Homo sapiens: one gene and its partners. The protein of the gene in region 1 purifies or fractionates together with the protein of each later gene. This does not show direct contact. Each region holds a gene or a part of one and is shown in the gene's direction. Other genes may lie near its edges.

The links.
Region 2: the proteins of CAPG (region 1) and TKT fractionate together in Homo sapiens (co-fractionation; one large-scale study listed by BioGRID). This does not show direct contact.
Region 3: the proteins of CAPG (region 1) and CMBL fractionate together in Homo sapiens (co-fractionation; one large-scale study listed by BioGRID). This does not show direct contact.
Region 4: the proteins of CAPG (region 1) and PCDHGA9 purify together in Homo sapiens (co-immunoprecipitation; one large-scale study listed by IntAct). This does not show direct contact.
Region 5: the proteins of CAPG (region 1) and ADK fractionate together in Homo sapiens (co-fractionation; one large-scale study listed by BioGRID). This does not show direct contact.
Region 6: the proteins of CAPG (region 1) and SLC25A13 purify together in Homo sapiens (co-immunoprecipitation; one large-scale study listed by IntAct). This does not show direct contact.
Region 7: the proteins of CAPG (region 1) and SNX3 fractionate together in Homo sapiens (co-fractionation; one large-scale study listed by BioGRID). This does not show direct contact.

Annotation. Positions count from the first base shown.
Region 1 is NC_000002.12:85,393,220-85,397,409, reverse strand, and holds the end of CAPG (macrophage-capping protein), read left to right. Parts: intron 1-1,783; coding exon 1,784-1,872; intron 1,873-2,451; coding exon 2,452-2,517; 3' UTR 2,518-2,657; downstream 2,658-4,190. UniProt on the Homo sapiens protein: Calcium-sensitive protein which reversibly blocks the barbed ends of actin filaments but does not sever preformed actin filaments. May play an important role in macrophage function.
Region 2 is NC_000003.12:53,249,506-53,254,138, reverse strand, and holds part of TKT (transketolase), read left to right. Parts: intron 1-4,633. UniProt on the Homo sapiens protein: Catalyzes the transfer of a two-carbon ketol group from a ketose donor to an aldose acceptor, via a covalent intermediate with the cofactor thiamine pyrophosphate.
Region 3 is NC_000005.10:10,280,017-10,284,553, reverse strand, and holds part of CMBL (carboxymethylenebutenolidase homolog), read left to right. Parts: intron 1-2,265; coding exon 2,266-2,357; intron 2,358-3,921; coding exon 3,922-4,101; 3' UTR 4,102-4,537. UniProt on the Homo sapiens protein: Cysteine hydrolase. Can convert the prodrug olmesartan medoxomil into its pharmacologically active metabolite olmerstatan, an angiotensin receptor blocker, in liver and intestine. May also activate beta-lactam antibiotics faropenem medoxomil and lenampicillin.
Region 4 is NC_000005.10:141,408,551-141,413,183, forward strand, and holds part of PCDHGA9 (protocadherin gamma-A9 isoform 1 precursor), read left to right. Parts: coding exon of another isoform or gene 1-2,115; intron 2,116-3,388; coding exon of another isoform or gene 3,389-3,412; exon of another isoform or gene 3,413-4,071; intron 4,072-4,436; exon of another isoform or gene 4,437-4,625; coding exon of another isoform or gene 4,626-4,633. Other genes in the region: PCDHGB6 (protocadherin gamma-B6 isoform 1 precursor), read left to right, coding at 1-2,070; PCDHGA10 (protocadherin gamma-A10 isoform 1 precursor), read left to right, coding at 4,626-4,633. UniProt on the Homo sapiens protein: Potential calcium-dependent cell-adhesion protein. May be involved in the establishment and maintenance of specific neuronal connections in the brain.
Region 5 is NC_000010.11:74,706,699-74,710,401, forward strand, and holds the end of ADK (adenosine kinase), read left to right. Parts: intron 1-1,622; coding exon 1,623-1,747; 3' UTR 1,748-2,592; downstream 2,593-3,703. UniProt on the Homo sapiens protein: Catalyzes the phosphorylation of the purine nucleoside adenosine at the 5' position in an ATP-dependent manner. Serves as a potential regulator of concentrations of extracellular adenosine and intracellular adenine nucleotides.
Region 6 is NC_000007.14:96,119,335-96,123,846, reverse strand, and holds the end of SLC25A13 (electrogenic aspartate/glutamate antiporter SLC25A13, mitochondrial), read left to right. Parts: intron 1-1,849; coding exon 1,850-2,008; intron 2,009-2,101; coding exon 2,102-2,192; intron 2,193-2,469; coding exon 2,470-2,656; 3' UTR 2,657-3,627; downstream 3,628-4,512. UniProt on the Homo sapiens protein: Mitochondrial electrogenic aspartate/glutamate antiporter that favors efflux of aspartate and entry of glutamate and proton within the mitochondria as part of the malate-aspartate shuttle.
Region 7 is NC_000006.12:108,226,072-108,230,704, reverse strand, and holds part of SNX3 (sorting nexin-3), read left to right. Parts: intron 1-4,633. UniProt on the Homo sapiens protein: Phosphoinositide-binding protein required for multivesicular body formation. Specifically binds phosphatidylinositol 3-phosphate (PtdIns(P3)).

The DNA of each region.
Region 1 (4,190 bases):
CACCTCCTAAATTCTAGACAATGGCTCTGAAACTACAGCAAGCCTCAGAATCACCCCACGGCCTGTTTAGATGGCTGGGCTCCACCCCCATAGATTCTGATTCACTAGGTCTGGAGTGGGGCAGAACATGCATCTCTAACAAGGTTATGGGTTATGTCTGTGCTGCTGGTTCCAGGGATCACACTTTGAGAACCACTGCCCTAGCCCAGCTCTAGACCTTTGGGGCTTCTGGGACCCCTGATCCTGGGATTCTGTCTCAAGGTTTGACAGAAATGAATTTTAGACAAATTAAACATCATTTTATGCAGTGAGTGGTGAACCTGTAGAACTTGTTTTTCCAAAAGATTCTATCTTCTGGAAATAGAAACACTGTTGGGCAGAGCCTGTTCTGCTTGGTTTGACTGAAAATGAAACAAACTTGTTCTCAGTCTCTGCCTGGGGTCTGAGAATTTTCAGCAATAGCATTTGCTCAACACCCAGTTGTGGGGTCAACCAAGGTGGAGAAAATGCCAGCCCCTAGCCTGGTCAGGAAGGCAGACAAGTAGGTGGGTATCTACAGATAGCTGCTACCAGGCATTTCATAGTATTGCTTCTGAAACTCAGCAGGGATAGAAGTGAAAGGGAGGAGCTGGGAGCAGCAAAAGAGTGGAAAGCGAGAGGCGTGTGCTGCAGGGCTGCCTTTTCTCTCCTGCCAGAGGGCACATATCCCATGGAACCAATGCCAAGCAGAGGGGGGTTCACAGAGGCCCACAGAAGCATGTATAAACCGGAGCAAGGAACCCAACAACTATGGAAAGAGAAATCAGAGGAAAAACAGGAAACTTGGGAGGCCAGGAAGAGAAGGATCTCATGGGTAGGGGGGCAGCTGGTCAGTTGACAGAGGAAGGAATCCAGCATATTAATTTCAGATACATTGTAGTTCATGGCATTTTATAGCCTGCCTAGAGAGCCAACCACATCACGGCATCGTTTCGGTATCATTTCCTTGGAAAAATGTCTGGCAGCCTGGGCAACATGGCGAAATATCACTTCTCTACAAAAAAAAAACCCCCCAAAATTAGCTGAGTGTGGTGGCGTGCACCTGTGGTCCCAGCTACACGAGAGGCTGAGGTGGGCAGATTGCTTGAGCCTGGGAGGTTGAGGCTGTAGTGAGCCGTGTTGGTGCCGCTGCACTCCAGCCCGGGCGACAGAACGAGACTGCGTCTCAGAAAAAATAAAAATAAAAAAGCCTGGAATGAGCAGTTTGAGTTCTCAGGACTGCTAGCAGAAATGACTGGATTACGTGGGGTCTTCATTTTTGTAAGTGCTTAGTTAGCATAACTGTTAGGCCAGTGTAGCCCTGCTGGCATTATGGGAGTAAATCACCTCTATAATAAATTGTACCCTTTGTCTTATTTAGTTTTTCAGAAAAGGCTTGATGAATTCAAGAGGTGAGGGGTCCTAGAGGAAAAGGAGACCTGCGGCCTCACAGTCTGATGCTAGGGTGAACACCTGTTCCCCTCCCTGAAATATTCCAGGGGCCCAGGTCAGAGCAGAGTTTTGCATGATCAGACCCGGGCAGACGAGGGGTTTTCATCTACCTTGGTGCTGCCGGTTTGGGAAAATTCTTAAGGGACTGACTCCACATCTCCAAAGAGCCCCTCGGCATTCTTGGGACCCCTGGTCCATTTATTGTAAAAATTGCTGGCTCTTCTGTGGACTCCCTTAAATTTCCTCAAGAAAAATGGGATGGCAGCTAAAGAGGGTCCCTGCTCTTTTTAAAAATCTCCTTCCTATGATCTAGGGCGAAAAGCGAATGAGAAGGAGCGGCAGGCAGCCCTGCAGGTGGCCGAGGGCTTCATCTCGCGCATGCAGTACGCCCCGAACACTCAGGTGAGGAGATGCGCACAACCACAGCCCTCTTCCTAGGGCTCTTCCTGTGGCCCCTGACCCCTCAAATTGGCCAGGAAGGGCAGGAGAGCCTTGGGCACTGTCAGGAACAACCAGGCCTCCCTCTTAGACCCATCCAGTGGGAAAGCCCATCTCAATCCTTCAAAATGTCAAAATACTTATTATTTTCAAAGAGGATGTTGGGCAGCACTCTCCTGGGTGCCCAGAGAACTGGGTACTCCTCCTCTGGGCCGTTGTCCCTGGCTGGTGCCACCCCTCCTGCCGCAGCACAGTGTCCACAAGTCATCCCGTGGGGAGCTGACAGGGCTCAGCTACCGTTGGTGGCATTTATTAAACTGTGCACCCACGCCCTTGAAGCAGTCTGTTGCCTCTGTCTGTGTCCCTGAAATCTTGGTTCTCATCTCATGGCTCATCCAGGGGAGCTTTCCCAGCCTGGACTGCACATGGATTCAGGCCAGGCGCCCACACCCTCCTCCCTGGCTCTGGCCCCCTCCTGTCCTCCTGGGCAGAGGCAGAGGTGGCAACTTTGTGAACCAGACTTCTCCCCCGCTGTCCCTGCAGGTGGAGATTCTGCCTCAGGGCCATGAGAGTCCCATCTTCAAGCAATTTTTCAAGGACTGGAAATGAGGGTGGGCGTCTTCCTGCCCCATGCTCCCCTGCCCCCCACCACCTGCCTGCTTGCTTCTCTGGCTGCCTGGTCAGTGCAGAGGTGCCCCCTGCAGATGTTCAATAAAGGAGACAAGTGCTTTCCCAGCTCTTTTCCTGCACCACCTGCCCTGGGCTGATTCTCACTGTCACCCACCTATTCACCTGGGTTCATCCCCATGCTGGGGGTGGAGTAGCACACAGATGACAATTGGACAGCCTTGGAGGGGCCAGAGCTGCTTTGCATGACAGAGGAGTCCCAGCCAGGCTTGCAGGGACTGCCATGAACCCAATAGGGAGGTGGCACAGTGCCAGGCCTCAGGATCAGTTGCATCCGGGTGTTCAGTTCAGTCTCACATTCCCAACAGGGAGAAGGTTGTGGCAATGGGCTTGGGATGCAGTTCCATTTAAGGCAGTATTTCTTCGGATGCCCTAATAAAGCACTGCCAGGCAGCTTCAAGTGACATATGCCCACTGAGCAAGAGAGGACAGCCTTTCACAATTGTACCAAGCCTGGCTTATTACTTCGTAGGCACATTGCCCAGCATGTTTGGCTGGTGAGCCCAGGGCCACTGCAGGGCTGTGCGAAAAGCACCAGGCTAGCATGGACAGTCTTCAGTCTGGTTCTTACCCTGCCTCTGTGATCCTAGGCAAGTTACTTTCCTTTGCTAGACCTTAGTTCATTCTCTTGGGTAATGAAGTGGTGGTGGGATGTCAGAGGCTAGAGAGCTAAATAGCAGGGAGAATGCAGTAGCCAAGAAGAGGTCCCATCTGAGAAGGCATGCCCAGGGGCCAAGAGCAGGGTGTGAGTGAGCCTGTGTCAGCTTGGACCAGAGGCCGTGAGGCCTGGCAAGGCTGCAACCACCCTGACTCATCCTCACCCCCAGGTCCTCTGGACTATGTGGCTTCTGAGCTCCAGAAATTGGATTCTTTCATCCCAAAACAAAAATTCTGATCAATTGGCAAGTTGAACTTGCTGATTTGTGCCAAGAACCATACCATAGATACCCCAGCCGGGTGCGGTGGTTCACGCCTATAACCCCAGCACTTTGGGAGGGCAAGACGGGCGGATCATTTGTGATCAGGAGTTTGAGACCAGTCTGGCCAACATGGAAACCCTTTCTCTACTAAAAATACAAAAAATTAGCCGGGCATGGTTGCGCATGCCTGTAATCTCAGCTACTTGGGAGGCTGAGGCAGGAGAATCGCTTAAACCCGGGAGGTAGAGGTTGCAGTGAGCCGAGATTGCACCACTGCACTCCAGCCTGGGTGACAGAGACTCCGACTCAAAAAATAAAAATAAAAAAGAAATGAGCTCCTCTGTGGATCTGCCTCCATGTCTTCTCCATAGACTTCTTAGCCCTACTTGACAGCCTACACAAAGAGCAGGTGCCAGGGATGGTTTTTTAAAGGGGAGAGAATAAAGGTTGCACTACATTAGTGGTTCTGACAACCTTTGTAGAGACGGGGAGTATTTTAAGTCTCCTATGAAAGGCCTAGCCCCTTTCCCTATAAATATACACAGATTAAGATTTTTGTGGCTGGGCACGGTGGCTCATGCCTATAATCCCAGCATTTTGGGAGGCAGAGGCAGGCGGACTCCTTAAGCTCTGGGGTTTGAGACCAGCCTGGGGACCATGGTGAAACCCCATCTC
Region 2 (4,633 bases), on another chromosome or scaffold:
GCTAGATAAAACATGCAGATGTTTACAGGGTTCCTGAGCTGCCAAGTAGGTATCTGGTATGACACAGCATCATCGTTTGTTGCATCCTGAGAATAACCCTGTGAGATAGATTGTGTTGTATTCACATTTTATAGACGGGAACACTGAGGCTAGTGTGTTAAGTTACTTGCCCAGGCTGGGAATTGGTGGCCATTCCGTACTGTCTGGTTGGGGCTCATGCTGTCAGGAATGCTTCTTGGCAGGGCATGGTGGTTCATGCCTGTAATCACAGCACTTTGGGAGGCCAAGGTGGGAGGATTGCTTGAGCCCAGGAGTTCCAGACCAACCTGGGCAACACAGTGAGACCCCATAGCTTAAAAAAAAAATTTTTTTTTTGAGATGGAGTCTTGCTCTATCGCCCAGGCTAGAGTGCAGCAGCACAATCTTGGCTCACTGCAACCTCTGCCTCCCAGGTTCAACTGATTCTCCTGCCCTAGCCTCCTGAGTAGCTGGGACTACAGGCATCCGCCACCGCACCGGCTAATTTTTGTATTTTTAGTAGAGATGGGGTTTCACCATCTTGGCCAGGCTGGTCTCTTGACCTCAGGTGATCCACCCACCTCGGCCTCCCGAAGTGCTGGGATTACGAGTGTGAACCACTGCCCCCGGCCAAACATTTTTTTTAATTGGCTAGGTGTGGTGATGTGTACCTGTAGTCCCAGCTACATGGGAGGCTGAGGCAGAGGATCACTTGAGCCCAGGAAGTTGAGGCTGTAGTGAGCCTTGAACATGCCACACACTGCAGCATGGGTGACAGAGTGAGACTGTGTCTCAAAAGAAAGAAAGAGAGAGAGAGAGAAAGAAAGAAAGGCCAAGAAAAGAAAAATAGTTGGGCATGGTGTTACATGTATGCCAGCACTTTGGGAGGCCAAGGCAGAAGGTTCGCTTGAGGCCAGGAGTTCAAGACCAGCCTGGGTAACATTAGCAAGACCCTGTCTCCAAAAATAAATAATGTTTCGGCCAGGCGCAGTGACTCATCCCTTTAATCCCAGCACTTTGGGAGGTGTAGGCGAGTGGATCACCTGAAGGTCAGGAGATCGAGACCAGCTTGGCCAACATGGTGAAACCCTGTCCCTACTAAAAATACAAAAAATTAGCTGGACGTGGTGGCGGGCGCCTGTAATCCCAGCTACTCAGGAGGCTGAGGCAGGAGAATCACTTGAACCCGGGAGGCAGAAGTTGCGGTGAGCTGAGATTGCACCATTGCACTCTGGCCTGGGCAACAAAATTGAAACTTCTTCTCAAAAAAAAAAAAGAATGCCTCTTGGGCAAGCAGTCTGTGCCAGGCTGGAGAATGGTGAAAAAGGTGAAAGGGAAGGCCAGGTACAGCCGCGGTGGATATTAGTCAGTCTGAAAGGCACTTGGAGAGAAATAAGATTTACAAATGTAGGGTGCTCCAAAAGAGTGGAATGTCAAGTGTGTCTCCTAGTTCTTTGTTAGGCAAAGTCTGATTTCCTCACCGCCGTTACCCCTCCGGAAACATACTGTGGTGTCCGAGAGTTACACCATGTTTACATTGTAATGTCTTGGAGAGGGAAGCTCACTGAACTCAAAAAATATCCATTTGCAAAAGAAAAAAAGGATATGTAAAATACAGTGACTGTGTGTGTGTATGTATATGTTTAAAATATGCAAAAAAGGAGGGAAAACTTATTTTTCAGAAGGAAATAACGTTGCTATGCAACCCATATTTTGAAAGTTGTGAGCCAAGAGTATGTGTGTGTTTGCACCCAAAAGCTAATCAAGGAAGACTTGAGACACAGGTAGTCTTCTGTTTCTTGTCCCCAGATGTTTATCTTGAGGCCCACTGTTCCCTCTCTGCAATGAGGCATAGAGTGAAGGCTCAGTCCGGAAGCCCTGGCCCAATCTGGGCTGTAGTCACAGCTAAAGTGACAGTTTGTCAGAATGTCCCCTTTTCTGGGGGAGCTCACAGGACTTTGATCCAGTTCTTTTTCTTTTGAGATGGAGTTTCACTCTTGTTGCCCAGGCTGGAGTGCAATGGTGCGATCTTGGCTCACCACAAACTCCGCCTCCCAGGTTCAAGCAATTCTCCTGCCTCAGCCTCCCAAGTAGCTGGGATTACAGGCATGCACCACCACGCCCGGCTAATTTTGTATTTTTACCCCGTAGAGACGGGGTTTCTCCATGTTGAGGTTGGTCTTGAACTCCTGACCTCAGGTGATCCGCCCGCCTCGGCCTCCCAAAGTGCTGGGATTATAGGCGTGAGCCACCGCTCCTGGCCCCTTTTCCTTTTTTCTTTTTTTTTAAGACAGGGTCTTGCTGTGTCACCCACCAGGTCTGGAGTACAGAGGCACAGTCATGGCTCCCTGCAGTCTTGAACTCCTAGGCTATAGCAATCCTGCCTCACCCTCCTGGGTAGCTGGGACCACAGACATGTGCTACCATGTCTAGCTTTGGTCCAATCTTTTGCTGGCCACTTACTGAGACAGGATTTGTACATTCTGTGAGGACCCAGGCTCGTTTCTCGATAGCTTTCCCATTCCTATGCCATTGCTGACCCGTGTGCAGTGAACCTCACCAGGCCCAGGAAGCAGGGACACTGGCCTCTGTCAGGAGTTGGGCCTGGAGGTGAAGGGACAGACCTCACAGAAGGCTCTTTGTTGAGGCAGCGCCCACAGTGGCTAGAGCTTCTCTGGGGTCATCTCCTTCCATGGGCTGAAGGAATTATGGCAAGGGTCCAGCTCATCCTGGCTTTAAAAAAACAAAACCCCAGTGGCCTTGTCAGAAGTGGCCTGGATGCTGAGGCTGGTGGCAAAGATTTCTCAGTTCTCACCAGGGCCAGACTGTGGTGTTATCCAAACAGTGCAAGTGTCATCTGAGGACTCCATCACAGTCAGGCCTGATTCAAAAGGGAAGGTGGTCTGTGCTTTCAACAAGTCCCCCCAGGGTTTCTGACCCACAGCTTTGGGGAGGTTAATGCCTGGCCAGTCCTGGCTGGTGGACACAGGAGATGAGTCCAACCCTGGCTCTGTTCCTAGTGGCTGTGCCTTTGTCAGAAAGGCCCTTCCGGCCAGGTGCGGTGGCTCATGCCTGTATTCACAGCACTTTGGGAGGCCAGGGTGGGAGGATTGCTTGAGCCTGGGAGTTCAGGACCAAACTGGGCAACATAGTGAGACCTCATCTCTACAAAAAAAAGAAAGAGCTGTGCATGTGCCTGTAGTCCCAGCTACTTGGGAGGCTGAGGTGTGAGGATCACTTGAGCCCAGGAGTTCAAGGCTGCAGTGAGTTATGATCATGGCTCTGCACTCCAGCCTGGGCAACAGTGAAACCCTGGCTCTTAAAAAAACAAAACAAAACAAAAAAACCTTCCTATCTCAGGTTCTCAGTTGCCCAGGCTAGAATGCTGTGGCGTGATCTCTGCTCACTGCAGCCTCCGCCTCCTGGGCTCAAATGATGCCCTCATCTCAGCCTCACAAGTAGCTGGGACCACAGGCATGAGCCACTATGCCTTGGCTAATTTTTGTATTTTTTGTAGAGTTGAGGTTTTGTCATTTTGCCCAGGCTGGTCTCAAACTCCTGGGCTTAAGCGATCCACCTGCCTCAGCTTCCCTAGAGTACTGGGATTACAGGCCATTTTCTCCATCTTGAAAGGAGAGGTTCATGGATAGGTGGTTTCAAACTGGGTGCCTCAGGAGTAGGGCTGGGGATGGAGTGAGTGGGCTCCGGGGTCCCACCGCCCGCTGTTGCTGATTTTACATCCTGGTGCTCTTTGTGCCCTTAAAGTGGCTGGGGTTGTATCCCAGTTTACCCAGCTCTGACATCCAGGTGCTTTGGCTGAAGGCTTGAGGGCCTCCTGGGGTCTCTGGCCCCATGTGGCTCCGCCTCTCTGGGCCTGTTTCTGTTTTTGGGCTGCCTCAGGACCCATCCTGGCCCTGACTGAGGCAAGAGCATGACCGTTGAGATTGCCCCAGCAGCAGCATTTCCTCACTCAGTGTGAAGACACTGGCCACCCTGGGGTGGCTTGGTTCTCTGCCCGAGTGACCTCTCCTCTGCAGGGCTGGTGGTCGGTGTTTTAAGAAACTGGAAGTGAAGTACAGCACCTAGTTAGGATCTGGCTGAGACTTTGTCGTGGCTTCCTATGGACTCTAACTGATGTCCGGCCCCTGTTGTGGCTCTGACCCCTCAACATTCATTGTCTCTTGTGGCAGGCTTGTTGTCACTGTCGCCTAGTTCCACAAAATCAGGAACTCCCTTCTTGCCACAGACCAGTTTGCCCTGGGTGCTGGGGACACTTCTAGAGGTCAGGGACCTGCACAGAGCTAGGTCCTCAGGCAGGCTCTGCTCCTGCCCTGAATGGAGAGGCAAGGTAGGGGAGAGAGGATGTGCTGGGAGCTGGGGTGAGCCCACCTGCAGATGGGGGTTGCTCAGAAGTCAGTTGCATTTGTGCACTGGGTGGAATCTCCGAGGACTACACAGCTGGAAGGGAAGTGTGGACGCCCAAGAACTTCCTCTACTGAGCTCTCCTAGCACCTTTTTCTTCATTTATTTGTTTGTTTGACAGAGTCTCGCTCTGTCACCCAGGCTGGAGTGCAGTGGGGCGGCGATCTTGGCTCACTGTAACCTCCACATCCTA
Region 3 (4,537 bases), on another chromosome or scaffold:
AAGTGAAAAACAGAATGGTTGTCTGGGTACTTGGGGAACAGTTTCTACTGAATGAGTGTCGCTTGTGCACCATTGTAAAGTCAAAAAATGAAAGTGGAACCATCGTTAGGCCTGGGACCATCTGAAGTGGATCATAAAGTTATACTAATGATTCCTTCTTGGGTTAATGGTTCCTCATTGTGGTATTTTCAACTACTTTTAGAGTTAAAAACGCCTTTAAATATTGACTTAGGACAACACAAAAGGACATAAACTCAAAAGGCAGTGGCCAGCTGCCTCTGGGAACAATGGAGCTGAGAGATGCTTTGTCCAGACCATGCTTTTGCGCGATTTAGCAAAAGGCGGTCGGGAGTGGATGCCTCCCCGGCGCCACCTTCTGGCCGCTGTTGTGTAGTGCGTGAGCTGCAGAGCGTGGCCGGGCTCAGGCCCAGGGATATCAAAAGAGGCCCATCCACATGAAGTAGCTTTGCTAGAGTGGGGAAGGGAGCGTGGTCACCTTTCCCGTGGCTCCCTGCCTCCTGAAGAGGAGTTACAGGTGAAGGAGGCTCTCTCTGTTACTTAGCTCTTCTGCTGCCAGCAGGAAGTGGAAAAAAGTTATGTTATTTACGTCTTCTTATCTTAAAATGGTTAACTTGCTGCAAATCTTTTACTTACTTATTTTCGCATAGAAGTGGACACACCCACAGGTTGTTTTCAGACAACCTGGGTCAGGCAGAGCATGCTTCTAATTTCAGAATTAATCTCGAATGAATGCTGAGATGAAAGATGAAAACTATTGTTATTATTTTTTGAGACAGCATCTTGTTCTGTCACCCAGGCTGGAGTGCAGTGGCACGATCTTGGCTCACTGAACCTCCACCTCCTGGGTCCAAGCAATTCTCCTGTCTCAGCCTCCTGAGTAGCTGGGGCTACAACACCCAGCTAATTTTGTATTTTTAGTAGAGACAAGGTTTTGCGTGGGTGGCCAGGCTGGTCTCGAACTCCTGACCTCAAGTGATCCACCCCGCCTTGGCCTCCCAAAGTGCTGGGATTACAGGTGTGAGCCACCTCGCCCGGCCAAAAACTGATTTTTATAGACTGACCTGCTAGGCCCAGGCAGTTTCACACTTCCACACTTCCACACTCGTGGTCTGGTGCGAGTCTAAATACCCACTCAAAAGACAGCTCCTCTTACCAACAAAACTACTCAGTGCATTCAAGCCAGAACCCGTGGGACTTGTGTAGACCTGAGAAACTTCTCAAGCGAAGGTTTGACATTGATCCTCTTTGTAAACGAAGGTACATCCCAGCGGGACATTCCTCAGGCTGCTCCGCATCTTTCCATACTAAGCAGCGGACGAGGTATCATTCAATTATTTAATGGCCTGATTCCCAGTCCATAAAGTGGGGAGGTAGACAGTAGGAGGATCTGACTAAATAAATTTCTCTTGTACTCTTATAATCCTCTTTTTTTTTTTTTTTCTGAGACGGAGTCTTGCTCTGTTGCCCAGAGCTGGAGTGCAATGGCATGATCTTGGCTCACTGCAACCTCCACCTCCCGGGTTCAAGCCATTCTCCTGCCTCAGCCTCCCGAGTAGCTGAGATTGCAGGCGCGTGCCACCACACCTAGCTAATTTTTGTATTTTTAGTAGAGACAGGGTTTCACCATGTTGGCCAGGCTAGTCTCGGACTCCTGACCTCATGATCCGCCCTCCTCGACCTCCCAAAGTGCTGGGATTACAGGCTTGAGTCACTGCGCCCAGGCTTTGGGTTTTTTGTTTGTTTGTTTTGTTTTGACGGGGTCTCACTTTGTTGCCCAAGCTGGAGTGCAGTGGCACAAACGGCTCACTGCAGCCTCAACTTTCCAGGCTCAAGCAATCCGCCCACCTTAGTCCCCGCAAGTAGCTGAGACTACAGGCATGCACCACCACACCCGGCTTATGTTTGTATTTTTTGTAGAGACAGGGTTTTGCGATGTTACCCAGGCTGCTCTCAAACTCCTGAGCCCAAGCCATCCACCTGCCTCAGCCTCTCGAAGTGCTGGGATTACAGGCGTGAGCCACCGCGCCCGGCCTTCTTTTACGCTAATCTTACAAGTGGGGCCACTTCTGTGGAATGGCTAAAAAAGAAAATAAAGTCCGCAAAGCAGAGATTTTACTTTGAAAAATCAAACCCAAATGTTGCAGTTTTCTGTGGCATGAGTGTGGGGATCATGCGGCATGGGTGTGGGGATCATGTGGCATGAGTGTGGGGATCAGACATCATGCCTCTGTGCTTGTTTTTCAGGCATTGTCAAGGATTCTGAAGACATTTACAATTTAAAGAACCCCACTTTGTTCATTTTTGCTGAAAATGATGTTGTGATTCCACTCAAGGACGTAAGTTGGCATCTTTTCTCTTCGTATTTATTTATTTGAGATGGAGTCTCGCTCTGTCGCCCAGGCTGGAATGCAGTGGCGCGATCTCGGCTCACTGCAACCTCCACCTCCCAGGTTCAAGCCATTCTTGTGCCTCAGCCTCCCGAGTAGCTGGGACTACAGGCGCCCACCACCGCACCTGGGTAATTTTTGTATTTTTAGTAGAGACGGGGTTTCACCATGTTGACCAGGCTGGTCTTGAACTCCTGACTTCAGGTGATCTGCCTGCCTTGGCCTCCCAAAGTGATGGGATTATGGGTGTGAGCCACCACGCCTGGCCTCATTTATATATTTAATAGCACGGTTTGACATTCTGCGGGGAGTGGGAAGTCTTGAAGGATGCATTTGTTGCTCCAAATATTTCCAACATTAACATTTTAAAGATGGGTTTTATTCAATTCCACTTATATAATTCCAGTGTGGAAGTATAACCTTCCCAAAACATGCTTAAGGAAATGTCTGAGGGAAGTATTCTCAGCATGGCCTGGTTACCTGGTGGAGAAACGGGACCTCTTGCCCCACCTCCATGCTAACCCACAAATTACAATAAAGTCTGTGACCTTAAAGACAAGGATTTATTAAACAAAGTCAGTTGATAAGGAAAAAGCAGAAGAAAAGTATGGTTCAAAAGCAGTCATTTAGCTGGGCGTGGTGGCTCATGCCTGTAATTCCAGAAACTCAGAAGGCTGAGGTGGGAGGATTGATTGAGGCTGAGAGTTTAAGACCAGGCTAGGCAGTCTAGCTAGATCCCTTCTCCACAAAAATATAAAAAAATTAGCTGGGATGGTGGCACACATCTGTAGTCCCAGCTATTTGGGAGCCTGAGGCAGGAAGATTGCCTGAGCACAGGAGTTGGAGGCTGCAGTGAGCCACGATTGTGCCACCGCACTCCAGCCTGGGTGACAGAGTGAGACCCTGACTCTTAAGAAAAAAAAGCAGTCATTTAGAAATTATTGTTATAATATTAGTAACTAATATATTAATGCAAGTGATTTCAAATAATAGATGTATCATTTTTCCATTTCCCTGAAATCTCTCCTTTGCCAGACATAAGGACTGTGTTAGTTATAAAATTAGCAGTAGAGGCCGGGCGCCGTGGCTCACGCCTGTAATCCCAACACATTGGGAGGCAGAGGCAGGCAGATCACTTGAGGTCAGGAGTTTGAGACTAGCCTGGTCAACATGGTGAAACCCTGTCTCTACTAAAAATACAAAAATTAGCTGGGCATGGTGGCGGGTGCCTGTCATCCCGGCTTCTCCGGAGGCTGAGGCAGGAGAATCACTTGAATGTGGGAGGCAGAGGTTGCAGTGAGCTGAGATGGCGCCACTGAACTCCAACCTGGGCAACAGAGTGAGACCCTGTCTAAAAAGAAAAAAATTAGTGGGAAAGAATTCAGTGTAACTGTGGAACTTGTTTCTGATTTAAAGCATTGATGTTAAATTTCTGTTATGAACGCTCACTAAAGATTTGGAGAATGGAAAGTATCACTAAAGGGTTAAAATCATGAAATCTTTTGCACACCAGGTATCTTTGCTGACTCAGAAGTTGAAAGAACACTGCAAAGTTGAATATCAAATTAAAACATTTTCTGGGCAGACTCATGGGTTCGTGCATCGGAAGAGAGAAGATTGCTCACCTGCAGACAAGCCCTACATTGACGAGGCCAGAAGGAATTTAATTGAGTGGCTGAACAAGTACATGTAGCAAGAATCAAGGGCAAGCCTTCCTAGAATAGCTTTCATCCCAAAATTTGCTTGGAAATAGTTAGATCATTTGATTTAATTTTCACTTTTATAAAATAAGTGTAGGAATCCTAAAATTGATTATTTCATTTGAAACACAAATTCAGTAGGACGTAATGCATGAAATAATTTAATTTTTGACATGTACATCGAATCATAATTTAAAAACAAGGTCTGACCAGGTGTAGTGCCTCATGCCTGTAATTCCAGCACTTTGGGAGGCCAAAGTGGGTGGATCACCTGAGGTCAGGAGTTTGAGACCAGCCTGGCCAACATGGTGAGACCCCATCTCTACAAAAAATACAAAAATTAGCCTGGTGTGGTGGTGCACGCCTGTAGTCCCAGCTACTTGGGAGGCTGAGGCACAAGAATCAATAGAACCCAGGAGGTGGAGACTG
Region 4 (4,633 bases), on another chromosome or scaffold:
TTTCATGTCATTGTGGTGATTGAGGATGTTAATGACCACGCCCCTCAATTTGATAAAAAGGAAATACATTTAGAAATTTTCGAATCTGCATCCGCTGGTACACGACTATCGCTTGACCCTGCCACGGATCCTGATATAAACATAAACTCAATTAAAGATTATAAGATAAACTCTAATCCTTATTTTTCATTAATGGTTAGAGTTAATTCCGATGGTGGCAAATACCCAGAGTTATCTCTGGAGAAACTCCTAGACCGGGAAGAACAGAGATCTCATAGCTTGATATTGACTGCCTTGGACGGAGGGGACCCACCAAGAAGTGCCACCGCTCACATAGAAATTTCTGTCAAGGATACCAATGATAACCCCCCGGTTTTCAGCAGAGACGAATATAGAATTAGTCTTAGTGAAAATCTGCCCCCTGGGTCCCCTGTGTTGCAAGTGACAGCCACTGACCAGGATGAGGGGGTCAATGCTGAGATAAACTACTACTTCCGAAGCACTGCCCAGAGCACAAAACATATGTTCTCATTGGATGAGAAAACAGGTATGATTAAGAATAACCAGTCATTTGATTTTGAAGATGTAGAAAGGTACACCATGGAAGTGGAAGCGAAGGACGGAGGTGGTCTCTCTACCCAGTGTAAAGTAATCATAGAAATCCTTGATGAAAACGACAACAGCCCAGAAATAATCATCACTTCTCTCTCTGATCAGATTTTGGAGAATTCACCTCCAGGAATGGTTGTTGCCCTCTTCAAAACACGGGATCTGGATTTCGGAGGAAATGGAGAAGTCAGGTGTAATATAGAAACAGACATTCCATTCAAGATTTATTCTTCTTCCAATAACTACTACAAACTGGTGACAGATGGAGCCCTGGACCGAGAGCAGACACCAGAATACAATGTCACCATCGTAGCCACTGACAGGGGCAAGCCGCCTCTTTCTTCCAGTAGAAGCATCACCTTGTATGTCGCTGACATCAACGACAACGCCCCAGTTTTCGACCAGACGTCCTACGTGGTCCACGTGGCCGAGAACAACCCGCCAGGAGCCTCCATTGCGCAAGTGAGCGCCTCTGACCCGGATTTGGGGCTCAATGGCCACATCTCCTACTCTATAGTGGCGAGTGACCTAGAGCCCCTGGCGGTGTCGTCATACGTGTCAGTGAGCGCGCAGAGCGGGGTGGTGTTCGCGCAGCGCGCCTTTGATCACGAGCAGCTGCGCGCCTTCGCGCTCACGCTGCAGGCCCGCGACCACGGCTCGCCCACGCTCAGCGCCAACGTGAGCCTGCGCGTGTTGGTGGGAGACCGCAATGACAACGCACCGCGGGTGCTGTACCCAGCTCTGGGTCCTGACGGCTCCGCGTTCTTCGATATGGTACCTCGCTCTGCAGAGCCCGGCTACCTAGTGACTAAGGTGGTAGCGGTGGACGCCGACTCGGGACACAACGCCTGGCTGTCCTACCACGTGCTGCAGGCCAGTGAGCCCGGACTCTTCAGCCTGGGGCTGCGCACTGGGGAGGTGCGCACGGCTCGAGCCTTAGGCGACAGGGACGCAGCCCGCCAGCGCCTGCTGGTCGCTGTGCGTGACGGTGGACAGCCGCCACTCTCTGCCACCGCCACGCTTCATCTGGTCTTCGCAGACAACTTGCAAGAGATACTGCCAGACCTCAGCGACCGCCCTGTACTCTCTGACCCCCAGGCTGAACTGCAGTTTTACCTGGTGGTGGCCTTGGCCTTAATCTCAGTGCTCTTCCTCCTCGCCGTGATTCTGGCCATTGCCTTGCGCCTGCGACGCTCTCTCAGCCCTGCTACTTGGGACTGCTTCCATCCTGGTCTCTGTGTCAAGTCTGGACCTGTAGTTCCCCCCAACTACAGTGAGGGGACTTTGCCTTATTCTTATAATCTGTGCATTGCACATACGGGTACAAAAGAGTTTAATTTCCTAAAATGCAGTGTGCCCCTACATTCCAATGAAGACATGGTTTGCAGTGTTTCTCCTGGAGCCTTAATTCCACCTCATGGTGGGGAGGATTTGACTTCACATCCTGAGACTCTGACTTCGGTGAGTTTCTCTTTTTTGTGTGTGATTTATCTAATAGTCTACTAGTTTCTCATATTTTAGGCATACTACTTTATTTTCATATCTAGAATCATATGTTTAAAATCCATAGCTTTTTACAATATTTTCTCAATGTTTTTTCAATTATAGTTTTCACTATGTATTTGGTTCATAAGTTGCTCTATCTTTTTGTAAAATAATGTCACCAGACTGAAGATATTTTGTCTTTGTCTTTTTTTTTTTTTTTTTTTTTTGAGATGGAGTCTCGCACTGTTGCCTAGGCTGGAGTGCAGTGGCGTGATCTCTGCTCACTGCAACCTCCGCCTTCTGGGTTCAAGCGATTCTCCTGCCTCAGCCTCCCAAGTAGCTGGGATTACTGGTGCCCCTCACCACAGCTAAATTTTTTGTATTTTTAGTAGACATGGGGTTTCACTATGTCGACCAGGCTGTTCAGAAACTCCTGTCCTCGTGATCCTCCCACCTTGGCCTCTCAAAGTGCTGGGATTACAGGCGTGAGCCACAATATTTTGTCAAGTTCTGACTATCGAACAGAAGCAGTGGTCTTGGCATCTAAGAAAACAAACAAGTAACCTATCTATTCAAATTTGCGAAGACTTAGTGAATTTACGATATCTTATTTATATATTTTTAAAGCCTAAAAATATTCAGAAGACAGGCCCAGTGGCTCACACCTATAATCACAGCACTTTGATAGGCTGAATCGGAAAGTATCACTTGAGCCCAAGAATTGAGACCAGCCTGGGCAATATAGGGAGACCCCCCATCTCTACTAAAACAACAACAACAAAAAAAAACATTAGCAGAGTGTGGTAGCATTCCCCTGTGGTCCCAGCTACTTGGGAGGCTGAGCTGGGTGGATTGCTTGGTCCTGGGAGGTCAAGGTTGCAGTGAGCCCTGATCTTGCCACTGCACTCCAGCCTGGGCGACAGAGTGCGACCCTGTCTCTAAAATAAATAAATAAATATGCAGGCAGGGCCAAGTGTGCTGTAATCCCAGCACTTTGGGAGGTGGAGGTGGAGAATCTCTTGAGCGCAGGAATTTGAGACCAGCCTGGGCAACACAGGGAGACTCCATCGCTACAGAACATTTAAAAATTAGCAGGGTGTGGTGGCACATGCCTGTGGTCTCAGCTACTCTGGTGGCTGTGGTGGGAGAATCGCTTGAGCCCAGGAAGTCTAGGCTGCAGTGAGCTGTCTAGGTGACAGAGTGAGACCCTGTCTCAAAAAAAAAAGACATTTCTAAGAAATAAATGAAATACTATTGCCTTTGCACTCAGTCTCTGTCTCTGATTCTCTGATAGAAGATTTTTGAAGAAAAAAGATAAAATCTTTGAAGAGTTCTATACTTGGAAGGCATAGTGACATAAACACTTCTGAACATCCTGTTCTCTGTGTGAAAGAAGTGAACTTCTATACCCTTTGCATTTGAGGGAACAATTGCTACTGGGTTGATGGGCACACACAGTTGAAGATATGTGAACCACTGGACTTTGGCCTCTGATACAAACTGCCTAAGAGAAGAGATTATTTATACTGGTATTAATGCTCTGATGAAAACAGGTCATTTGACATAAACACTTACTTGTTAAAAACCTATATCACTACATCTAACTTTGTTTTCTAAAACTTTTAGTACTTCAAATTCTACGTATTTCTTTTCTCATTACAATGCAAACAGTTTAATTTGCAACTGTAATATATGTTCATTTTAGTTTGTGATTACCTGCTTAATCATTTAAATAGGTCCATTTAACTTGTATCCCTGTAAGATAAAGTATGTTTTACACAAAAAGGTTAATTAAGGCTCAGTAAAACTATTCTAGAAGAGTACTTTAAAAACCTCTTACACAATCCTAAGCTAAATAAGTTTAATGAATTAAGTAGTTACAATTATAAAGCTTCAGAGTGAATTATCTCATGAGTTTATTTAATATAATCTTTGTATGAATGTATACTAAATAAAATTGGCCTATTCAAATCACAATTTTAAATTATAAGACTTTTCTGAATTTACCTAGACACTAATATGACCTAAAATAAGTATTATTTACCTTTTATTAAAGTGTGTACATTTCTGTTGGGAAAACGTGTTGCAAATATATATTTAACCAAACATTATCTTGAAATATTTACAATATTTTCACTCCACTTTATCACACCTCCCCTAAGAAACCTACATATAGTAAATTATTTAAAGATAGGAGTGGAGAAACCAAAGAATCTATGTAAAATATAATAATCCAACAGAATAGTTTACTTTCCATTGCATGTATCACTTGGGTGCAGTAACTTCTTAGGACTCTGAGCGCCGCTGTTCACCTACTAGGAGAGAAAACGCAGCCAGAGCTCAATCCGGATTCTCAGGGCTTCAACTACACAAGCCCCACAAACCGGCTGCTGGGCTGCAGGGAAGCTCACTCCAGAATTTAAAGTGCCCAGGCTACAGAGACACCCTGAAGCCACAGAAAGACAAAGGAACCGGTTGAAACACACAACGTGTCCAGTGAGGACTTTGCAGAATTCTGTAACCAGACTACAATGGCCGC
Region 5 (3,703 bases), on another chromosome or scaffold:
TTCAAAGTTGAGTTTTTGCTAACCTAGGTCCTTTGAATTTCCATATAAATTTTAGAAGCAGCTTGTCAGTTTCTATAAGAAAAATCTGCTAGAATTTTTATTAGTATTCCAATGAATTAATAGAAAAATTCCTGCAGAACTGATAATATTGAATCTTCTGACCTTTGAACACTTTATGTCTATTTATTTAGGCTTCTTTTATATTTCTCAGCATTGTTTTGTCATTTTCAATGTGCAGGCCCTACACAACTTCTGTCAGATTTATTCTAAGGTACTTCAAATATTTGAAGTATGTGAAGTACCTTAGAATAAATATGGATAAATATTCTTAACTTTTTAATCAATTTTTGTTTTTGAGACAGGGTCCTACTCTGTTACCCAGGTTGGGGTGCAGTGATATGATCATAGCTAACCACAGCCGCAACCTTCCAGGCTTAAGCAATCCTCTCACCTCAGCCTCCTGAGTAGCTAGGTCTACAGGCATGCACCAACATGCATGGCTAATTTTTGTATTTTTTGTAGAGACAGGATTTCGCCATGTTGCTCATGCTGGTCTCAAACTCCTGAGCTCAAGCAATTCACCCATCTTGGCCTCTCAGAGTGCTGGGATTATAGGCATGAGCCACGATGCCTGGCTTATTCTTAGTAACTTCTAATTGTTCATTGCTCGTATGTATAATTATATATACACATTACCAGTATAGATAATTTACTTTTGTATTTTTAGTAGAGACGGTGTTTCACCATGTTGATTTTGAGACCCTATCAACATATGCTTCCCTGGCTGGGTGTGGTGGCTCACGCCTGTAATCCCAGCACTTTGGGAGGCCAAGGCAGGCGGATCACCTGAGGTCAGGAGTTTGAGAACAGCCTGGCCAACATGGTGAAACCCCATCTCTACTAAAAATACAAAAATTAGCTGGGCGTGATGGAAGGCACCTGTAATCCCAGCTACTCGGGAGCCTGAGGCAGAAGAATGGCTTGAACCTGGGAGGCAGAGATTGCAGTGGGCCAGGATCATGCCATTGCACTCCAGCCTGGGCAACAAGAGTGGAACTCCACCTCAAAAAAAAAAAAAAAAAGGAAGACCAGATTGACTTGATGGCAAGTTGTTGTGTCTCAACTTGAGCTCTTTAGAATAAATATTAGGGGAAGCTCATGATGTTTGGGAAAAGATCTCCCGACCGGGCACAGTGGCTCAACACCTGTAATCCCAGGCCAAGGCAGGCAGATCACGAGGTCAGGAGTTTAAGACCAGCCTGGCCAGCATGGTGAAACCCCATCTCTACTGAAACTACAAGAATTAGCTAGGCATGGTGGTGCATGCCTGTAGTCCCAGCTATTCAGGAGGCTGAGGCAGGAGAATTGCTTGAACCTGGGAGGCGGAGGTTGCAGTGGCCAAGATGATGCCACTGTACTCCAGCCTGCGTGACAGGGCAAGACTCCATCTCGGGGAAAAAAAAAAAAAAAAAGACCTCCCTAACGGTAACGCACAAGACTTTCTCTTACTGTCAAGGCTGAAGAATGAGACAGGTGCTTAGATCATATATTGGTCTGACCCAATATGACATTTCTGCTGCTGTTATACAATACTCATGTGTTTTTTTTTGCCTGTGTTCTAGGTTTTCTGTCTCAACTGGTCTCTGACAAGCCTCTGACTGAATGTATCCGTGCTGGCCACTATGCAGCAAGCATCATAATTAGACGGACTGGCTGCACCTTTCCTGAGAAGCCAGACTTCCACTGATGGAAGAGCTGAAAACACAAGCCCAGGAGTGCAGACACTGCCCTAATTGCTTCCTGAGAATTCCCATATTAATAAAGAAGAAAATTATCTGCCATTTTTTCCTACTATAATAATGCTGAATCTTAATTTAGAGGGTACAAGGGTATGGTAATGCTTGTAGAATCTTTATTATCTCAACAATCTAAAAAATGATGTTTATTTCCATAGTTTGATAGTGCCACTTAAATGCCAATTAAACAAGAATATAACATTTCAATAGAAATTTTTATTTCATTTTCAATTACTTTGTAAATTCGTGTGTATTTAGTACACTGATTTGTTTTTTTACATTTCTGCTTTGAATGCAGATGCAATTTAATATAATAGATTTTTTAATGAATTAATCTTAACATAGTAATCTTTAGCTTTTTATACAAATATATTTAATTTAGGAGTATATGTGTGTCTATACACACACATACATAAATATACCACATATACACCTGATAGTCAAATAAGGTACAGAAATTTTATCTTGTCAATTATGCCAAATAATCTCTTTAATGTGCACTCAAACATGTAATAAACTTTGGATAATTAAATAATGTGCCAAATTTAAGTTGTACCACAATATTCAAATCATAGTCTTATGGAACTCTGTAATTGGACACAAACAAAAACTTGTCATATAGGAATTTTTTTCTGTCTTTTCCCTGTGTACAGCAAACTGAGGAAGAAAGATCATTATTTAATACTGGGCCCTGAAATGACACCCAATTTGTTAATGGAATTATGAAGAACAGCAATATAATACACTGAAGAATAACTTAGTATCAGAGACCAATAAATCACTTTTTTAAGGATGACAAAATGGTATAATTGGACTTCTGGAGTCAGACTTTATATGACCTTAGGTAAATCTTCGAACCTCAGTTTCCTTTTTGTAAAATGAGATAATAACCCTTACATAGAAGGTCATTGAGATGATTTGAGCGAGATTACCAAGTATAAGATATTTGTTATAATGCCTTGTAAATGCTTTATAAGTAGCTGCTGTTATTATCATTATGATTATTTTCTTTTTGAAGAAAAAAAGATAATGTTTGTAAAACTGAATTCAAATCATAGGAAAGGATTTGGCCAGGCGCTGCAGCTCATGCTTGTAATCCCAACACTTTGGGAGGCCAAGGTGGGAGGATCACTTGAGCCCAGGAGTTCAAGACCAGCCTGGGTAACAAAGTGAGGCCCCACCTCTACAAAAAAATTTTTAAATTATCCAGCCACAGGCTGGGCACAGTGGCTTACACCTGTAATTCCACCACTTTGGGATGAGGCAGGTATCACTAGAGGTCAAGAGTTCAAGACCAGCCTGGCCGCCATGTTGGTGAAACTCCATCTCTATTAAAAATACAAAAATTAGCCAGGCATGGTGGTGGATACCTGTAATTCCAGCTACTTGGGAGGCTGACACAGGAGAATTGCTTGAACCCAGGAGGCGGAGGTTGCAGTGAGGCAAGATCACACCACTGCACTCCACCCTGAGCAATAGAGTGAGACTCCATCTCAAAAAAAAAAAAAAATTACCTGTGGTGGTTTGCACTTATAGCTACTCGGGAGGCTGAGTTGGGAGGATCACTTGAGCCCAGGAGTCTGAGGCTACAGTGAGCCATGATCACACCCATGTACTCCAGCCTGGGCAACAGAGCAAGACCTTGTCTCAAATAAATAAATATATAAAGTCAAAAACTTGTATGTTGAACTATAGAAAGTTGAGTACTATCTGTAGTGCAATTAATTTAAATATAAAGTAATTTGATATTTTACAGTGGTGCCAAAGTGATCCAATGGGGAAAGGAAAATCTTTTCAACAGATGATGCTATAAAAACTTGATATTCATAAGGAAAAAAATGAATCTTTGACCCTGATCTCATACCATACAAAAAATTAGAGATAAAACATGGTCACAACATAACAGC
Region 6 (4,512 bases), on another chromosome or scaffold:
CCTGGCCCCCAAAATCAACAGCTCTCTGGTGGCCAAGTTCTTGCCAGTATCTGCTGCTTTCCCAGCCTTGCTTTAGGGCAGCCTGGTGCAGTTCTCCAGGTTAACTTAGCAAATCCTCACACTGGAAATCTCCTGTCCACCAAGATGTCCAAAATTCCTTTTAGGCCTTACCAGATACCTGCCTAGGAGAAACTGGAGCTGACAATGGAGATGATGGGAGTTATGTTCAAGTTGCCATATTCTAGCATTCGCCACAACTCCTATCAGTTTTGCCAGGCAACTTACTAGGTGTCTTTCATACCTGCTTCCTTCACCCCCAGTACCTCTATTTTCATAACAAAGAAGAGTTTATGAAAATTACCCTAGCCAAAGGGAACTTTTTGCCCATTTTATTGCTTGTATGTCTTTCACAGTCACAGTCTGACATGCCTGCCCACCATTGCAAGGCGGCTTTTATTGCATGTCTAAAGCAGGCTGTCTTGCTAAACTCTTTCTAAACCAGGAAGTAAAACAAAATCGGTGGTGTGAACACAGTGGGTTTCTAAGCATTTTTCTTGTTTCCTTCCATTATGTTGGAGGATAAATTCCTGGCCCAAAGTTAAAATAATTCCTACAAATGAACAGGAATTTCAGTATGACTTATCCAGTGAAGCACTGGATATAAAGTGAGCTTTTTGCATGCAGAATTGTGATGTATTTTATAAAACCTCTTGAGATTAATGTTTGAGGAGCTAGGTAAAGATGGAAGAGATACTCCTTCAGTAATATAAATGGAAGCGTGTAGTATGCAGATTTACACCCCCCTTCCAACTCACTGTAACTTTAAAGCTGTCTGTTAGAAGGATGAAATGTAGTTGTGAGCCAGACCATGTTGGTTTGGACAGAAATTCTTACAGAATTATTAAGCCTTAAAAAAAGCAAAGGAGATTTATGCATCTGCATTTGACCAATTTGGTTTGGAATAAGTTCATAATGGAAAAGTAATAAAACCATAAGAGACAGTGTCTTCTGAGTACAGTCTCGCTTTTAAAAAATCTAAACATGCACTGCCCTATTTTGGATACAGTGACTGTAGAAAAATTTCCCATTGGTAACTTTGGGAGGGTTTTCTGTTGTTGTTGTTGTTCCTTTTTCATTGATTATCAGCCAGTATAAATTTTAAGCTTTCTGTCAAATATTTTTCTGGAGATGTCAGTCTTAGGGAAAAGAAATCCTAAAGTGTTATCTGTAGGAGTCTCCTTCTCCCAATTTCACCCCCTCCCCGAAACCTCCACCTCCCACCCCCCAACACACATAGTGTTTTTTAGATATCAGTAAAGTCTTTTTCTGGTGTAACTGGAGAGGTTGGGGTTTGGAGAGTAGGGGGTGGTTGAATGTGTGAGAGAAAGCACCTCCTGTGACTGCCAGCAGCCACAGAAGACCATGAAGAGGAAACGCATAACAAGCTTCACCTCTGAAAAATCGGACCTAATAACTTCGCAAGTTTTTGATTTCAACAGGAAAGAAAAAGAAAAGAAAACCGCTTTCTCCACTTATTCTCAACCACTTGAAGTAGTGTTATTGATAAACAATTTCTTAAAAATATTTAAAGATTTAGGAATAGAAACAAAGGAAATGAAGGCTGAGTGATTTGGGCAAGGGAAGGTGTGAGTCTGGTGGGGAGGGGTGTAGGAGCAGACATCTTGCACACAGGAGAGGCATGGTTGCATTTCCCATAGAGGACAGCAAAATAGGCATTTTATTGAATCGGATTTTTAACTTTCTTTCCACGGCCAGCAGTTCAAAGCACAGTTATTTTTATATAGTGAGAATGTGACCAGACTGAGATGGTGTTGTGTCTCTCCTGCAGGTATGCCTGCAGCATCTTTAGTGACCCCTGCTGATGTTATCAAGACGAGATTACAGGTGGCTGCCCGGGCTGGCCAAACCACTTACAGCGGAGTGATAGACTGCTTTAGAAAGATACTGCGTGAAGAAGGACCAAAAGCTCTGTGGAAGGGAGCTGGTGGTATGGAAATAATGTGTTCTTAACTAACTCTTTGGTATCAGGTAAATTTTTAAAATATCTAATTATATCTGTGATTTCTCCATTTTTTTAAAGCTCGTGTATTTCGATCCTCACCCCAGTTTGGTGTAACTTTGCTGACTTACGAATTGCTACAGCGATGGTTCTACATTGATTTTGGAGGAGTGTAAGTATCATGCTAAATCTGCTGCTAAATTTTGGCTGCTGCTAATGCTCTGTTGTCGTAGGGAAAGGTACCTCAGTCTAGTCTCTATAATAAAATAGAAGAGATTTAGGGAAATGTTGAAATTGTGTTAACAAGGTCATTTCCAAGGGGAACATACAACTGATGAGAATGTATCAACTCCTTTACATTAAATATTTGAACAGGTTTTGAATGTTATTTTTATCAAGTTAAAACAAACAAAAAATACAGCTTCTTACTCTGTTTTCTCTTCTTTTAGAAAACCCATGGGATCAGAGCCAGTTCCTAAATCCAGGATCAACCTGCCTGCCCCGAATCCTGATCACGTTGGGGGCTACAAACTGGCAGTTGCTACATTTGCAGGGATTGAAAACAAATTTGGACTTTACCTACCTCTCTTCAAGCCATCAGTATCTACCTCAAAGGCTATTGGTGGAGGCCCATAGGAAGATCAGCCCTGGGATAGTGCTGTCTTTTTGTGGGTACTGCAGTAAAGAACATCCCTCCTGGGAATGAAGCAATGCTTCATCCCTTTTACGTCCATCTCTTGTTTAAATTCAAGTCCAGGCTTTTTTATCATGTGAAATCATTCATTTTCTGGGTGTTTTCTTAACCAGATCATTGTGAAATTATTCATAATTATTATTTGGCCCTCTGCCCAGAAACCTTTGTTTGCATCTGAAAATTGATGGGATTTGGTCAACACTAACATGATTTGGGGAAAGGAGCAAGTCAGAATAGAAATTAGTACTCCCCTCCTTGAACTAGGATTGTAGTCCCAAAGAGGCTACTGTAAGGCAATCATGGTGCTCAGAGCAGTGTTTCGTGTGTGTTTTAAACTGGTAGGAAACTAGGTGCATATTTATAAAAATAAAAAACACTGGGAGAAATGAAAAAATATATATCAAATATATTCAGCCTGGCTTCAAATTGTAAGCATGCACAAATTCTGTCTCTGGATTATATTATGAAGCTTTTATGTGAAACATGTTTCTTTGTAATGAAAACCACATTGGAGATGTTTAGTAATCATATTGTTACTGGTACCAAGACTACTAGGGAAATGCCTTTGTACTTTAGGGAAGTACTTTTGGCATTTTACTGTACAGACAGAAAAAACTGAGATGTAGCCCCTCTCCTGGAAGTGCTAATTTTGAAAAACTGCTCATATGATGTACATGTACTGATTACTGCCTATTTTAATAAACACTCTTGAAAAATGCATGTTGCCCTGTTGCTGCCTGCCCTATTCTCCTCATCTCCCCATCATTGGTACCCACTTGCTTTTAAAATCCACTTTATCTTGAATAATGTAAGACAAATATGTTCTGACATAAGTATTTAATTCATGTTGCCTTGCATAATGGTCAGAGGCGCATGAATTTGTGAAGGTGGAAATAAACTATTTGTAAAGTGATTGAGTTGTTTGGTCTTGTGCATGTTGCATGGTGAGTGGATACAGTAATTGTCATTATTGGCCTACATGTTTTGTTTTGAGGGGAATTTTATTCATATTGGCATGGATATATCCTCAGTATCTTTCAAGGTAATGTGTTCCCTCATTTTCATGGTTCAAAGTGAGTACAAGAAACTGTATTTAACCATAGATAAGCAAAGAACTAGCAAACTGACACCTTAGTTCTAGTCATTCCAGCACTTTCGGCAGTTTATTGTGATGATGAAGGTCACATAGTTTTAGTAGAACTTAGCCATGAAAACTGGTATGAAATGGCAGTCGTATTTTCTAATCCAGTCTGACTCTTGCACACACCAAAACCATATACCACTGTATCTAACATTTGCTATTATTTGGCTAGCACTATAATGATTTGGGGAAAGAAGCTAGTCTTGAACAGGATTTAAGGCTATTCTTAGACCGTGATCATGCTTCCAAAGAGGCTACTAATTAATCTGTTGGCAGTCTGTATGAACATTTTGAGTTTCCAAAGTTTTTCTCCATAGCAGACAGCCATTTGTCAGTCTGTTTCTGTAAGTCAACAGGCTGACATTTGAAGTTACAGTTTAAAATTGGCAAGAGTCAATACCCGCCATAAATGGCTGATTTTTTAGAGGGGGAGGGTCAGGAGGGGAGTGAAGAGCTTTGTCTTCTTCACTAGAAACAGGACAGATAACATACATGGCTCCTTCTGTGATTATTTGACAAAACCAAAGGGGAATCCCCTCCCCAAATTCAGTGTGATAAGTGATAAATATCTGTATTATAATCTCAGAGACTAGTCACAGAACTCCAAATATGTGTTAGAAATGTGGTTGGTGTTAGAACAAAACATGCCAACTTTGG
Region 7 (4,633 bases), on another chromosome or scaffold:
TGAGCCTCTGTCTTTGCTTCAGATTTATGATGAAACGTGATTTGCAGAACTTTTGAACTCCATGAACAAAATTGAAGTCTAAAGTAGTCCAGGGTTACTCAAACTCAGAATCTTCAGCATTTACTAGTATATACCTATACAAATAGATGAAGGCTGTGGCTTACTTTTTGGTTCTTGCCCTATGCTGTACTTTACTTTTGCTTGTCTCCCATCTTACCTGTCTGTGATCACTGTGCCCACATCGGCTGATCTATTGTTATTTCCCACAAATAACATATTTCTTGTATTTCCTACAAATATTATTTCATACAGATGGTTGTATTTAACACTTTTACCTGTTAAGAAATAAAATGAACAGTAGCTAGGAAGAAAATTGTGGCTTCCACTTTATACTCAGCCTGATACTAAGCAACTTCTCTTAAAATTAGGGGGAAAATATGAATATTAGAGTGAGAGAATACTAAATCTTGCTGTTTAAATTTCAAAAGTTTTAGTCATCTTAAAGTAAGTTAACAATATTTAAGCCTGATTTACATTTAATTTCAGAATTCAGCATTCTTTCTGGGTAAATCTAGAGCATTTAAAGTGGCATCCAAGATAAAACCTTTAAGGGATTTTTGCTGTAATTTGCCTCAGTAGTCTGACTCTTGTCCATACATTTCAAAGCAGATAAACCTAGGAATCAACTAGAGCCATCTGTTCTTAATTCTACACCTTAATGCTACATGCAGCTCATCTGTGGCTTCTACTTCTGTAGTAACTTCTCTGTTCTATTTTTTCTGTTCATAGCTATCATTTTTCTATTCAAACATATTTATTAACTCCTGATGCTCACAGGTAGTCACCTTAGCCCCATATTTAGAGTGCAATTTAAACTTTTCAGTTTTATTTCCCATCATTCCCTATGCTTTAGAATATTCAAGAATTATATACTAAATATACACTGTACTTGTTTCTTCTCTGCATTTAGCTCACACTATTTTCACCATTTTCAGCTGTCTTATAGTATGGCTAGCTCTGTGTTAAAAGAGTCCTGGCTGAGGCCATTGCACTCGCGCCATTTTACCCTAGCATGGGCGACAAGAGCGAAACTCTGTCTCAAAAACAAACAAAACGAAAAAGAGTCCTGACTGGCCGTACGCAGTGGCTCACACCTCATATTCCAGCACTTTGGGAGGCTGAGGTGGAAGGATCCCTTGAGCCCAGGAGTTCAAGACCAGCCTGAGCAACTTAGGGAGACCCTGTCTCTAAAGGAAGGAAGGGGAGGGAGGGAGGGGGAGAGGGAGGGGAAGCAGAGAGACTGAGGAAAGGAAAGAAAAGGAGGGGAAAGAATGAATGAATCCGGGCCAAATCAATTGTCAATTCTTCCGTGCTTTTCATATTATACAAATGGTATTATGCTATATAATATACTGTTCTGAAACTTTTTTTTTTTTTTTTTTTTTGAGGTGGAGTCTCGCTCTGTCGCCCAGGCTGGAGTGCAGTGGCATGATCTCACCTCACTGCAACCTCCGCCTCCCGGGTTCAAGCGATTATCCTGCCATAGCCTCCGGAGTAGCAGGAATTACAGGCTCGTGCCACCTCACCCGGCTAATGTTTGTATTTTTAGTAGAGATGGGGTTTCACTGTATTGGCCAGGCTGGTCTTGAACTCCTGACCTCAAGTGATCCACCCGCCTCAGCCTCCCAAAGTGCTGGGATTATAGGCATAAGCCACCGCACCCAGCCTGAAACTTTTTACATGTCATACATTCTAGACAGCTTTTCTGATTAACCTATGGCTGAGTTATATTTTGTAAAAAGCTGTGTAATATAAGCTTGTAATGTAAGATTTATTGTTTCTGGTCTTTTTTGGGGTTTTTTTTTGTGTCTATTACAATGCTAAAATATTTTTGTATGTGTGGAAATATTTGTAGGATTAATTCCCATTGAAATTGTTCATTCAAAAGTTATGTGTATTTAATAGAGTAATGGATAATGTATTCACCAAAATGCCCCCCTTTTTTTTGAGACCGTCTCCCTCTGTCACCCAGGCTGAAATACAGTGAGTGATGTGATCACAGCTCATGCAGCCTCAGCCTCGAAGGCTGAAGCCATCCTGACACCTTATCTTCCCACTACAGGCATGTGCCACCATACCCAGCTAATTTTTTTTTTTTTAAACAGAGTTTCGCTCTTGTTGCCCAGGCTGGAGTGCAGTGGCGCAATCTTGGTTCACTGCAGTCTCCGCTTCCCGGGTTCAAGCAGTTCTGCCTCAGCATCCCGAGTAGCTGGGATTACAGGTACCCGCCACCATGCCTGGCTAATTTTTGTGTTTTTAGTAGAGACAGGGTTTCACCATGTTGTCCAGGCTGGTCGCGAACTCCTGACCTCAGATGATCCACCCGCCTTGGCCTCCCAAAGTGCTGGGATTACAGGCATGAGCCACCACGCCCAGCCTGCCCAGCTAATTTTTTATTTTTTGTAGAGATGGGGGTCTCACCATGTTGCCCAGCCTGGTCTCAAACTCCTGTGATCCTCCCACCTCAGCCTTCCAAAGTACAGGGATTACAGGCTTGAGCCATCATGCCCAGCCAGTTTGTAGTATTTTTAACCATGGAAATTCAACTTTTTATATGCTTATTTTCTAACCTTGATTGGTGTATGTTTCATAAGGGCCAGGTCTGCATCTTATTCATCATTATAAATAATGATTCTCCCTTATCTAGCATGGTGCCCTTTTATAGATGATCAGTAAATAATAGTTTAGTCCTCCTGAAGCTGTAGGTAAAAAACCTCTCCGCCCTTCAATCATTTTATGAAAGTTAAATAAATTGAAAGTGACCAATCACAGGAGTTTCAGCAGTGATAGTTCAGTACCTTAAACAACAACAACAACAAAAAAAAAAAACCCACATTTTGCACTTAGTTATTTTAATCAGTTACATTGAATTACAAATCCTTGTAATGATGAGGAAGACGTTTAACAGGCTAAGTTAACCACTGCATATGTAATGGGCAAGTGATGTTTGAATTTCTTGATGTGACTTTAAACTCTAAAGCAGTCCTCATGCAAAAAGAGAAATCATAACCAGTTAAGAAAACTAAAGGAACTTTCTTAAGCTAATCATGGTCCTCTAAATTTAAGTATATAAACTATCAAACTATTAGCTAATCATAGAAGGGAAAGTACTTTTCCCCCTCACCCCTCCCCTTTCTGTTAGAGTGAATCAGATATAATCATGATTGTGTCAAAAGTTCAAAAGGGAAAATGGAAGGTAAAATGAGCTGAATTGGCACTCTTCTCTCAACATTGTACCTGTAAGCTTGATATGTTGTTTCAGAGATTAACTTTATAGACTTCCGTACCCAGAAGTATGAAAATTCTTAGGGGACTCTTTTCGCAAGCTTGATCTTAACGTATTTGAATAAAGAGAGCAGTTAATCCCCTTTGTAAAGTAATTTGAGAGGAGGGAATTCAGAATGTAAAATCTCACCTGCAGAAAACACTCAACTCTGTAAAGGCCTTTTTATCTTTAAGGCATTTACAAAGACTTAATATTTTAATGCGGAAGGGTGAACTTGGTTAAAAAGCCAATAGGTGAAATTAGAGAGAAATAATCCAGTGCTTTCTTTCTGGGAATTATTCTACTCTCCAGGGGACCTAATTTTATTCCCTGTGGGGAATGAGAATACCCTCTGTACAACAAGCCAGCATCTTTAAATATAAGCTTGACTTTTAGTATAATAAGAGTCTTGTTAGGTGCAATTTTTTCCTTAGTCATTTATACAATGAACAAATGTTGTGGTTACCTGGGAAAGAAAATTCAAGTGCTTTTAAATCTCTTGTGAGATTTGGTTTCATGCTTGAAACCTATACACTGTTATGCCCAATAGCATCTGTTGAAAATTCTGAGCTGTAAGGTATACAACATAGAGAAGTTAATACACTTAGGAAAAAATTGAGACCACTACAAAATGGATTTAAGGGCCTGAATTAAAAGCTTTTCTTGTGCTGAGTGACAGCTACTTACCAGTAGCATTAAGCTTAACAAATAAGTAGAACTTTCTTAGGAGTGAATATTACAAGATGATGTCCCTGTATACACAGTAGGAAGCCAGTCTTTCCTTCAGGTGGCACTTAACTTTTTTCTTCCAATTGTAAAACACTTTTTAGTTCTATGCAAATTCTGTGCTAATTAGTTCAAAGTCTGAATTAACGGACAGAATATAATCTAAGAGAATATATAGTGTTGAGTAGTATTTTTGGTAGGGTATGGCATTAGTTATTATGTTAAGTCATTTCTGTCTCCTACAAACTTTGTGATAATTTGCACATTTTAAAATCTTTTTGGCTGGGCACGGTGGCTCATGCCTGTAATCCCAGCACTTTGGGAGTCCAATACAGATGGATTGCGTGTACTCAGGAGTTCAAGACCAGCCTGAGCAACATGGTGAAACCCTGTCTCACCAAAAGTACAAAAATTAGCCAGATGTGATGGCATGCGCCTATAGTCTGAGCTACACAGGGGGTTGAGGTAGGAGAAATCACTTGACTTGACCCTGCCATGATCATGCCTCTGCTCTCCAGCCTGGGTTACAGAGTGAAACCCTGTCTCAAATAAAATTCTCAAATAAAATAAAATCTTTCTTCT